3 linked regions of the Homo sapiens genome follow. The protein of the gene in region 3 purifies or fractionates together with the protein of the main gene of each other region. This does not show direct contact. Each region holds a gene or a part of one and is shown on either strand. Other genes may lie near its edges.

The links.
Region 1: the proteins of LEMD2 (region 3) and ATF2 purify together in Homo sapiens (co-immunoprecipitation; one large-scale study listed by IntAct). This does not show direct contact.
Region 2: the proteins of LEMD2 (region 3) and CSGALNACT2 purify together in Homo sapiens (co-immunoprecipitation; one large-scale study listed by IntAct). This does not show direct contact.

What each region holds. Positions count from the first base shown.
Region 1 is NC_000002.12:175,077,635-175,081,364, reverse strand, and holds part of ATF2 (cyclic AMP-dependent transcription factor ATF-2), read left to right. Parts: intron 1-599; coding exon 600-705; intron 706-3,730. UniProt on the Homo sapiens protein: Transcriptional activator which regulates the transcription of various genes, including those involved in anti-apoptosis, cell growth, and DNA damage response.
Region 2 is NC_000010.11:43,144,767-43,148,496, reverse strand, and holds part of CSGALNACT2 (chondroitin sulfate N-acetylgalactosaminyltransferase 2), read right to left. Parts: intron 1-3,730. UniProt on the Homo sapiens protein: Transfers 1,4-N-acetylgalactosamine (GalNAc) from UDP-GalNAc to the non-reducing end of glucuronic acid (GlcUA). Required for addition of the first GalNAc to the core tetrasaccharide linker and for elongation of chondroitin chains.
Region 3 is NC_000006.12:33,782,631-33,786,130, forward strand, and holds part of LEMD2 (LEM domain-containing protein 2), read right to left. Parts: intron 1,890-3,500; coding exon of another isoform or gene 1,863-1,889; exon of another isoform or gene 1,831-1,862; intron 1,798-1,830; coding exon 1,722-1,797; intron 1-1,721. UniProt on the Homo sapiens protein: Nuclear lamina-associated inner nuclear membrane protein that is involved in nuclear structure organization, maintenance of nuclear envelope (NE) integrity and NE reformation after mitosis.

The sequences.
Region 1 (3,730 bases), on a different chromosome or scaffold from region 3:
ATGTGTACAAATTGCCTGGGTCAAAGGCAGCTAAGCCATTTAAATGTTATATCTAGTTTCATTGGTTTCAGTGTCCAGCAAGAGTGCCTTGCAGTGAATTTTAGGTATCCATGATTCTTTGGTTATTTTGGTTTCCCCTGTGGAGCTTTTCTTGGTTTCTAGGAAACTGGAAACTTGCTTATTTGAATTTCTAGGATGATTTTTTTCATTTTTAGGTGAATGGAATCAGTGAAAATTCATCCTGACTCCCTTGATGTTTCTTTTTAAATAATCAGAAGAGCATGCAACATATATAAAATAAAAATACTTTCAACAGGTCACCAATAATATATAAGAAGTCCCAGGGAAATGGAAACAATTTTGAAATATGCTATCCAGCTGTGGCATTATCTTAAATTTTTATTCAAGTTACAGCTTTTTAATAAATGCTAAAATATAAAAGCTGCCCTGTGCTGATTAGACATATTTAATCAGCATATTTTCTTTGTTTTTAATGTTCTGCCAGTGATGTCCAATTTTATACTTTAATCCTTGCTTGTTTTAAATAGTAAAAAATATGTTTAGTCTGTGGTAAGGTACATAAGTTGTTTCTTCTCCAGAGTGAAGTCACCCTGCTGAGAAATGAAGTGGCACAGCTGAAACAGCTTCTTCTGGCTCATAAAGATTGCCCTGTAACCGCCATGCAGAAGAAATCTGGCTATCATAGTGAGTAATGTTCCATTACCTATAGCCTTAGGCTACGTCAGTGAAATACCGTCAGAGTGAACTGAGCTGCTACTTTAAAAATGGAGACTGTGCTTCTAATATTCAAGATTAAATATCAGAATTTCTGTAAGGTTATTATAGAATGCAGTAGAGAGGTATAATTTTTTAGAATCTAGAGAGTTTGAGTTTTCCTGTTTCTAGCTTTTTTCCTAAGCGTTACTATAGATCAACAAAATGGATTAGCTAATAATTTAAAATATACTGTAAGTACTTGATGATATTTTGTTCATCTTCTCAGGATAACACTTTGTCTTAGATTGACAGGGTGAAACACTACTTTTTTCCCAGCCTCCGTTCATTAATGATGATATTTTTCTTTTTAAAATCAGCTGACTGCCTTTAACAATATATGATATCCCTTTAAGGTATCAGATCCTATTGTTCTTTCTTAGATAATGTCAGCATTGTGTAACGTTTTTATTGTTGTAAACCTTTATATTGAGATATCTAGTTAGTTTATAAAAATGTTAAAACGGGAACAGTAGTTAAATTATCTGCTTGTAAATTTCCTGCTAAATGTTTTCCCAAAGAATGAGATTCTTTTGTTTTCAGCATTTTAAAGGTTAATTGTGCCTTTTCCTTTTTGTAATGTCCTTCTTTTTTGATAAGATGCACAGTGTTGGAACCAGCTGTTACTCTTGAATAAATGGCCAATTTTGTCCATAGTATACAAATTTGTAACAAACAACAGAGTTGGGAATGCATTAGGCAACATTTATAATATATAACCCACAGTTTTAGTCTTTATGATTTAGTGATATTTCAGGATATTAGTAAATGTGAAGATTGTTTCAACCATATGTATCCACTTCATTTTAATTTGCCAGTGTCAGTAATTCAAAAGAAAGAAACATTTTGTATTGGATGCAAACAGTTCCTCAGGTGCTCACGATAAAACTTAATGGCCACCATCTTTACTTGTAGTCATTATAAGCAGTTTCATCAGAATGGGCAATATTTTTTAATTTAAAAGATTCCGTAGATTTAGCTACTCTCAATTGCCATATATATTTAGAACGCTGATTTTTGTCAGTTTTGAGCATATAAATCTTGCTTATTTGATATCTAGTAATTTTGACAGGATGGTGAAACACATTGGAGTAAATTGGAACCATATAGAAATATGTTTGGGATTTATATTAACAATGATTGCTTCAGGGATGAGGCCATTATGGTTCCCATCTGACTTAACAACATAATTTCCTATAGAAGCTACTAGTTCAGCATTTATGCATACGTGATTTTCTTAACAAGAAATCTCTCTTGGATTTTCATAGTTTAAAAGGAAATAAATTGTTTTATAAAATTAAAAGGAAATTAACTGTTCTCTTAAATTGTATCCAATTCAGAATTACCTGTAATTTTTAAATCTTTGATAATTTATTAGATAATCCCAACAGTTTTGACTCTATTATCCAGGCAATGTATGCTCAGCAGATGCAAACCAGTTATTCATTTGACAATTGATTTACAAGATATCTTAAGTGTATAGATGCGTAGGTTTATATACTGTATACTTAAATGACTGAAAATCTAGATTAATACATTTTTAGTACATAGAGTACTAAGTTATGAGAATATAAGAAATGAATAGGATATGTTTGTTGTTTGGAAATAATCCTATCTTTATTCCTGTCTAGTCATGTAGATAATCAAATTAACTGAAATATAGTTCTACCATAAAATTAATTCTCTTCAGATCTTGGGAGATAATTGGATTTTGTAGAAATTTTCAGGTAATTTATATTTTCAAGTTTGAAATCTTTGAAATAAGTCTGACTTCTCTGTTGTGTAGTAGTAAAAATAGATACAGAAATTGACTAAGTGAATACCTTTGAAAAATTTACACTCTTCATTATGTTGTAGCACACAGCTCTTGCTAACAGTGGTGAGTTGTAATACTAGCTAAATCTTTAAAAACATTTGGGAATCAAAACTAAGATTTAGTAGAAATTAAGGAATGTTACAAAATCTTTCAAGTAAAGGTGGAAGTACTAAGTCACAGCCATAGGGTCTGTCCCGCCCAGTTTTAGCACTGAAAGTCCTACTTCCTAAGAAGACCCCTCAGTCGTGGGAAAACCATGACAGTTAGTCACCCCAACAGTTAAGTAATATAAAACCTGAATGAAAATACTAAGAGTACATTTTAAATATTTGGGTTCCATGAAAAATAAAGCACAAAAGTGATCTTATTGCCATGAATTCACATTCTTTAGATCTGGGCATAATTAAAGTTGTATTATAATTGTCTCTATAATTATAAATGGGAAGAAAAGCTTCTTGGGGACTAATCAACCACAAATACTTTTATTACTGAAAATATGTATAGGCCAGGCACTGTGGCTCATCCCTTGTAAGCCCAACACTTTGGGAGGCCAAGGCGGGAAGATTGTTTGAACCCATGAGTTCAAGACCAGTCTGGGTGAAATAGCGGGACCCCATCTCTACAAAAAATAAAGTTTAAAAAAGCCAGGCATTTTGGCACACACCTATAGTCCCAGCTACTTGGGAGGCTGAGGCAAGAGGATCACTTGAGCCCAAGAGTTCAAGGCTGCAGTGAGCTGTGATCGTGCCATAGCACTCCAGCCTGGGCGACAGGGAGACCCTATCTCAAATAAGGAAAAGAAACTTGTGGACATAGGTAGAGAACTTTCAAGATTACTGAATTGCCAAACAGCTGGTTTCTTTTAGCTTAGGTAGAGCTGGAAGTGGCTCTTTGAGTACAGCATGGTTTTCTGTATCTCTCTAGTGCTTGTGATTACACCAGTCATTTTCTCCCCTCACCTAGAACTGGACATAGGTGCAAATATATCACATTGTAAAGGTATTTGATGTGTATGTAAGGTTTATAATTACATAATTGTGAGTACCTGATTCTTTGTACTGCTTAAAGATTTGCTTTACCTAATTCTGAAAGTCTGTAGGTAAGCATTCATCCCTTATAATTTACTGTTTCATTTTAAGT
Region 2 (3,730 bases), on a different chromosome or scaffold from region 3:
GCTAAAATGGTAATATTCCCCAATTAATGTACAGATTAAACACAATCCTCTTCAAGAATCCCAGTGGACTTCTTGCAGAAATTGGCAAGCTGATCTTAAAATTTATACAAATTCAAGAAACCCAGAATAACCCAAATAATATTGAACAAGAAAAATGAAATTGAAGGAAAACACTTCCCAATTCCAAAAATTACTACAGAGCCCCAGGTAATTAAGACAATGTGGTATGGCATAGAAATAGACATATAGTCAATGGAATGGAACTTAAAGCCCAAAAATAAATCATCACATTTATGGTTAGTTGATTTTCAACAAGAATAGCAAGGCAGTTCAATGGGAGAAAGAATAGTTTTTTCAATAAATAGTACTGGGACAACTGGATATTTACAGGCAAAAGAATGAAACTAGACTCCTACTTCACACCACATTCAAAAATTATCTCAAAATGGGTCAAATATCTGAATATAAGAGTCAAAACTAGAAAACTCTTAGAACAAAACCTATGTGTAAATATTTGTGACCTTGGATCAGGCAACAGCTTCTTAGATATGACACCAAAGACAAAACAAATATTAACTGGACCTCATCAAAATAAAAAAACTTGTGTTGCAAAGGACATCAACAAGAAAGTGAAGAAATAACCCATACAATTAGAGAACATTTGTAAATCATTTGTCTGTCTTACTTTAAAAAGCAAAAAAAAAAAAAAAAAAAGATAACTCGACAAGCAAAAGATCTGAACAGACATTTCTCTAAAGAAGATATATAAATGGCCTATATAAATACATGAAAAGATGCTCAACACCATTAGCCAAAAAGGAAATGCAAATCAAAAGCACAATTAGATACCACTCCACATCCACTAGCATGTAATTCAAGGTGAATCATAGACCTAAATGGAAAAAAACCAAAAGCAAGCATAGGATAAAATCTTTGTCACTCTGAGTTAGGCAAAGATTTCTTAGATATGATATTCAATAGCATAAATGATAAATTGAATTTCATCAAAATTAGCAATCTGTGCTCTTTCAAAGACATTGTTAAGAGAATGAGAAGACAAGTGATGGACCTGGAGAAAATATGGGCAAAGCATGCGTCTTATAAAGGACTTGTACCAAGAATATATTTTAAAATGATCAAAATGAAATAATAACAAACACAACTCAATTAAAATGTGGGAAAAGGCCTGAACCCTTCAAATAAACACTTGAAAAAGATGCTCGGCCGGGCGCGGTGGCTCACGCCTGTAATCCCAGCACTTTGGGAGGCCGAGGCGGGCGGATCACGAGGTCAGGAGATCGAGACCATCCCGGCTAAAACGGTGAAACCCCGTCTCTACTAAAAATACAAAAAATTAGCCGGGCGTAGTGGCGGGCGCCTGTAGTCCCAGCTACTTGGGAGGCTGAGGCAGGAGAATGGCGTGAACCCGGGAGGCGGAGCTTGCAGTGAGCCGAGATCCCGCCACTGCACTCCAGCCTGGGCGACAGAGCGAGACTCCCGTCTCCACAAAAAAAAAAAAAAAAAAAAAAAAAAGATGCTCAACATTGTTAGTCATTAGGGAAATGCAAATCAAACCATAATAAGACACCACTACACAGAAGGGCTAAAAATAGAATGGCTAACATTAAAAAGAATGACCATACCAAGTGTTGTTAACGTGGAAGGACTAGAACTTTCATACACTGCTGATGGGAATATAAAATAGTTTTGTTAATAAGTTATGAACTTAACAAGTTAGATTATTTTCTTATTAAAAAAAAAAAAAAGACAGCATCTTGCTCTGTTACCAGAGCTGTAGCGCAGTGCCTCTATCATATTATAGCTCAATGTAGCCTAACTCCTGGGCTCAAGTGATCCTCCTGCCTCAGCTTCCCGAGTATCTGGGGCTACAAGTGGGAGCCACTACACCTGGTGGGATGGCTAATATTGAGTGTCAACTTGACTGAACTGAAGGATACAAAGTATTGTTCATGGGTGTGTCTGTGAGGGTGTTGCCAAAGGAAATTAACATTTGAGTCAGTGGACTGGGAGGGGTAGACCCACACTCAATCTGGTTGGGCACCATCTACTCAGCTGCCAGCGGGGGTAGAATAAAGCAGGCAGGAGAAGATGGAAGGGCTGACTTGCTGAGTCTTATGGACTTCATCTTTCTCCCATGCTGGATGCTTCCTGACCTAGAACATCAGACTCCAAGTTCTTTAGCTTTTGGACTCTTGGACTTACACCAGTGGTTTTCCAGGGGCTCTTGGGCCTTTGGCTGCACAGACTGAAGGCTGCACTGTTAGCTTCCCTACTTTTGGGACTCGTACTGATCCACCACTGGCTTCCTTGCTCCTCAACTTGCTGATGACCTATCATGGGACTTCACCTTGTGATGGTGTGAGTCAATTCTCCTTAATAAACTCCCTTTCATATATACATATATCCTCTTAGTTCTGTCCCTCTAGAGAACCCAGACTAATACACTTGGCTAATTAAAAAAAAATCTTTTTTTAGAGAGAGAGTCTTGCTATGTAGTCCAGGCCAAGTTTCTTAATAAGTGAGTAAGCCTACTCATATGATCCAGCCATTCCATTCCTAGATATTTACCTAAAAGAAATGAAAGCACATATTCATACTATTAAAATAAGATGGAGACCAGGTCTGTAAATCCCCTGGACAAAGCCAGTTAAGCCATTAAAACAACCTTGACCTTGCAAATATAAGCAATAGAAGCAAAACTTAATTTGGGCTGTTTGCAAATGTAAACTTTGGTTATTTTTTGTCTGTGCCTATATTAAAGAAAAATCAGGCTGGGCATGGTGGCTCATGCCTGTAAGCACCTTGGGAGGTTGAAGCAGGAGGATCACTTGAGGCCAGAATTTGAGATCAGCCTGGGCAATATAGCTAGCGAGACCTTGCCTCTATAAGAAATTAAAAAATTAGCCAGGCGTGGCGATGCATGTCTGTAGTTCATGTTGCCCTGGTTACTTGAGAGGCTGAGGTGGGAGGATCACTTGAGCCCAGGAGTTCAAAGCTGCAGTGAGCTACGATCGCACCAAAGCACTCTAGCCCTGTCTCTTAAAAAAAAAAAAAAAAAAAAAAAAGAAACAAACAAACTTAGGCTACGCCAATTAGAAGCCATCAACTAACTTACATAACTAGGGACTTTCCAATAGGATGGACTAAACAAGGCAACTATATAAATATAATTAATCAAATATTTTCTTTGCCTTGTTTCCTTGTTCATCCTATAGAAGTCTTCCACTTGCATTCCTTTGGTGGAGTCCCAAATCACTTTTGATTTGTTGCTGTCTGATTCATGAATTGCTGTTTGCTCAGACAAAACTCTTTAAAATTTTATTCTGCCTCAGTTTATACTTTAACAATACCAAAACTTGTACACAAATGTTCATAGCAGCTTCTAGGTGTAGAGCCCAAAACCAGAAACAACCCAGGGTCCACCAACAGGTGAATGGACAAACTGTAGTAAAACAGATACACAATGGAACACTGCTTAGCAATAAAAAGGAATAAACTCTGACACATGCTTCACCATGGATAAATATCAACAATTACTCTGAGTAATAGGAGCCAGGCAACAGAAGTACTTACTATATGATTCTATTTATATAAAATTTTAGAAAATGCAAGGTAATTTGTAGTTAACTGAAAGTAAATCAGTCAATGATTGCCTGTGGGAGGTGGTACCAGGAAGGAATTATAAAAAGGGGTGAAAAAACTTTTGGGA
Region 3 (3,500 bases):
CCCAGAACTTCTGGCCTCTTGGTTCTTGTCTAATCACATTTTATATCACCCAGTGGTCAGGGAGGTAGGTGGCCTGTCTCTTCCAGTAGACCCCAAGCCGGGGTTGGGCCCTGCAGGCAGGACCTGGAGCTGAGTCATCTCACTGCAAGGGCCTGCACAGTGCCCAGCCCACAGCGGATCCCTAACAGGAGAGGCATGGAAGGGGTTGAGGACTACTAGGGAGCCTCTGTGAGGCACACTCCTGTCTCAATGAGATATGTACCTTCAAGGCGGCCCCCCAGGCTTGTCGGAGGGCAACAGGTGCCAGGGCCCTTGAGGGCATAAGGCAAGACCACATATGGAGGGTAGGATGGAGGAGAAATATCTACTAGGACCCAATTTCGAGCAGTGCTTCTCAACTTTAGGGTGCACTCAAATCCCCTGGGGATCTTAAGATACAGACTCTGATTCACTGGGTTTGGCATGAGACCTGAGATTCTGAATTTCTAGTGAGCTCCCACGTGATGCAGATGCTATGGGTCCTTGGACCACATTTGAGACACAAAGGTTTGGAACACTCTCTTAGGTCAGAATTGACATCCCAAGCACCTGGGCCGTACAGAGGAATTCCTATGATGCTGTGAGCAGGAGCCCCAGTACCTGTTTCTCCTCCAAGTGCTCATGGATGCCTCCCCTACCATCTCATCTCTCACTTTCAAGAGGGAGGAGGCAGAAGAGCTGATGCTCATGAGATTGACCCTGAGGACTGAGGGCCCAGGAGAAGTCCACCCGACCCTAATTTCCCAGTGAAACCTTAGACAAGGGTTGACCTCACAATCCTAAGACCTGTCCTCTGACCCCACAGGTAAGAGGCGCCTCTTGAATATCCCTTAAGATAGAACTGCTCTGTCTGGTTCTTGTGTCCAGCGCATTTAACACAAGGCGCACATGCTGATATTCACCTATGTCAACTGCAAGTGATTTTGAGAGCCTCCTGGATGCCAGGCGTCGGGCAGGACATAATAATGCAGGTGGTATCTCTGGCCTCAAGGAATAACTTCACCAAATAAAACAGTAGGGGATGCATCTTCTGGATGCATTTTCAGGGGCATTTCACAGAGGTGCTGAGAATGCCCTCCTTTAGAGGACAGCACTTGACTCTCATTTGTAGAGAACAGACAGACCCAAGAGCCCTTGGTCAGACAGGGAGATGAAGACCCTGAGAGGATCAGGGACTTTGTCCGAGGTCCCACAGCCACATGGTGATCAGGACCAGATGTGACACCAGGGCCCACTACACAGACTATCTGCTACTTGCACAGGCAAGAGGCCTCTCCCGGGCCCAGCCAACCACCTGGTTCAGAGGGTCCCTCTAGGGTGAAGGACACAGATCCTGACAACACCTGGGGCTTGGCCCCTTCCCATGCCAACAGAGACCCCCAAAGCATTAGGTAGTGGGCATCCCCAAGAAGGAAGAACAGCTGCAGGAAGGCCTGTTCACATGCCAGGACCTCCCTTAAAGAGGAGCAAGAATCAAATATGTTTTGTTCAAACACAAGGCTTATAAAAGATGTGCCTGAGTGAGGAGGCGAGAAGGTGAGACTCGGCTTCTGAATATGCCTTCTGAGAGACAACCAGGGAGTGTCTCGCTGGCCAGCAGCAGTGTAACTAAGCCTGATGAACCGGGTCAGCCGCCCATAGCTCTCACAAGAGGAATCTCAGGACTTACGTGACTTACTCACCAGCTTGGATGGCCAGGAAATTGTAGAGTTCATGCAGCAGCTCCAGCAAGGCTGCCTTCTGCTTGGCCTGACAGAACTGGAAAGGCACGGGACAAGTGGTCAGCAAGGAGGGGTGGGTGGGAGGGGTCCGTCTGTCCATCTTTACTTCTCCAGCCACACTGTCAAATACTAAACAGCAAGGAATATCTCATACTTTTACAAAATAGAAAAAAATTCTGCCAAGTGCTGGGCCTAGGGAGAGAGTTGATAAATATTGGGTTAACTGCCTGAGAAAGACCCTGGAGAAGCAGAGGCAAAGCTGAAAGCAGACACTGTAACCAAGGGGCTGCATCCCAGAGGCTCCTGGCTCCTGCCTTTCCCTTGGAATGACGGCCATTAAGAGGGCTGAGCAGAGGCGACGTGGTCGGGGGATGATGCAGTCGCTCAGCTTCCTCAGAGGAAGAGCAACTGCTGTCGGAGTTTGCAGAGATGGGAGAGCTGGAAGAGCTAGGAGAGCTTGCAGACAGGGCAGAATGTCAGCAGCTGCCATCTCGTCTCCCGTTAGGTGGAATCTCAGAGCCCTCATCTGAGTAAGGATTGTGGTAGGATTCAGTGCGAACTCACACAAACCACTCAGCAGAGGCTGCTACCACCTAAAGGAAACAGGAGGACAGACGGTACCAGACAACGAGACGGCCTGATTAAGACAACACACCCACTCCCAGCCTGTCCCCACGTTTTCAGCAGCACAAAGGCAGAAAGAAAAACACAAAGTGTCACCGTCTTCAACGACCGAAAAGGGAAAGAACATGAATCTGAAATTCAAATGCCCGTCTGTGATCTCGGTAAGCCTGGAGCCATGCAAAGAATAAGACTTTCAGCAAGAGCCTCACCAAAGCCAAGAAACACGTCCCCACCTGCTTGTTCCTGTGTCCACCCTCCAGAAAGGCCAAGGGTGCCCCATGAAATCTTAGCTCCACAAAGCCTGCATTGAGATGGCCCAGCCCCTGCTTTCTGATGCTCTGATGAAGGTCTGAATGGTTACAAATAGGGATATCTGCGTCTGAAGCCCTCGCTGGCAGGTGCTGAATGCCGTCTGCCCACGGAGCGCATCTGTAGCTAGGACCTGGAGGGTACCTGTCTGGGCTCACTCAAGTGGAGCCTGAGTGTGTCCAGATCAGAGAAGGCCAGGGAACAAATGTGCCATTCACTTGTGGGTCTGATTCATTTAGAGATGTGAAGGACCAAGAAATAGAAACCATGGAACTTTTTTCTAATTAAAAGACAAAACTAACAGCACTGAGAAGTCTTACAGAAAGTTATTTTTTCCTGTTTTTGTTTTAAGTCTTCAAATTCCAGTTTCCCCTCTGGCTGCCTGTGTTTCTGGGCCACTTCCTCTCATCATCAACTACAGTTTTTATGATAGAAGGCAGATTAAACTTACTATGAATCTGTTTTTACAAAACAATTGGGAAGCAAAGATATTTGGTGGATGAATCCAATAAATGGATGTAATAAAACACCCCCAACTATGACACACCCGAAGCCAAAGAGAAATAAAAGCCGTTATCTGCACCAGGATGCCCCCTCATTTACATGAGTAAGACAGTCAATGCAGGGCTGGCCAGAGGACCATGCGTCATTTTCTTTCCCAGCCCCTGGGCTACTAGAGATGTTAACTAAGGACTTGGGAGGCCAGGCATTGCACACTTAATTAGACTACTAAGTCATGCCCTCTGGCAGCACAAGACTCCTCCTGGTACAATTTAAGACCTGAAAATTTACTGCCCCATATCTTCT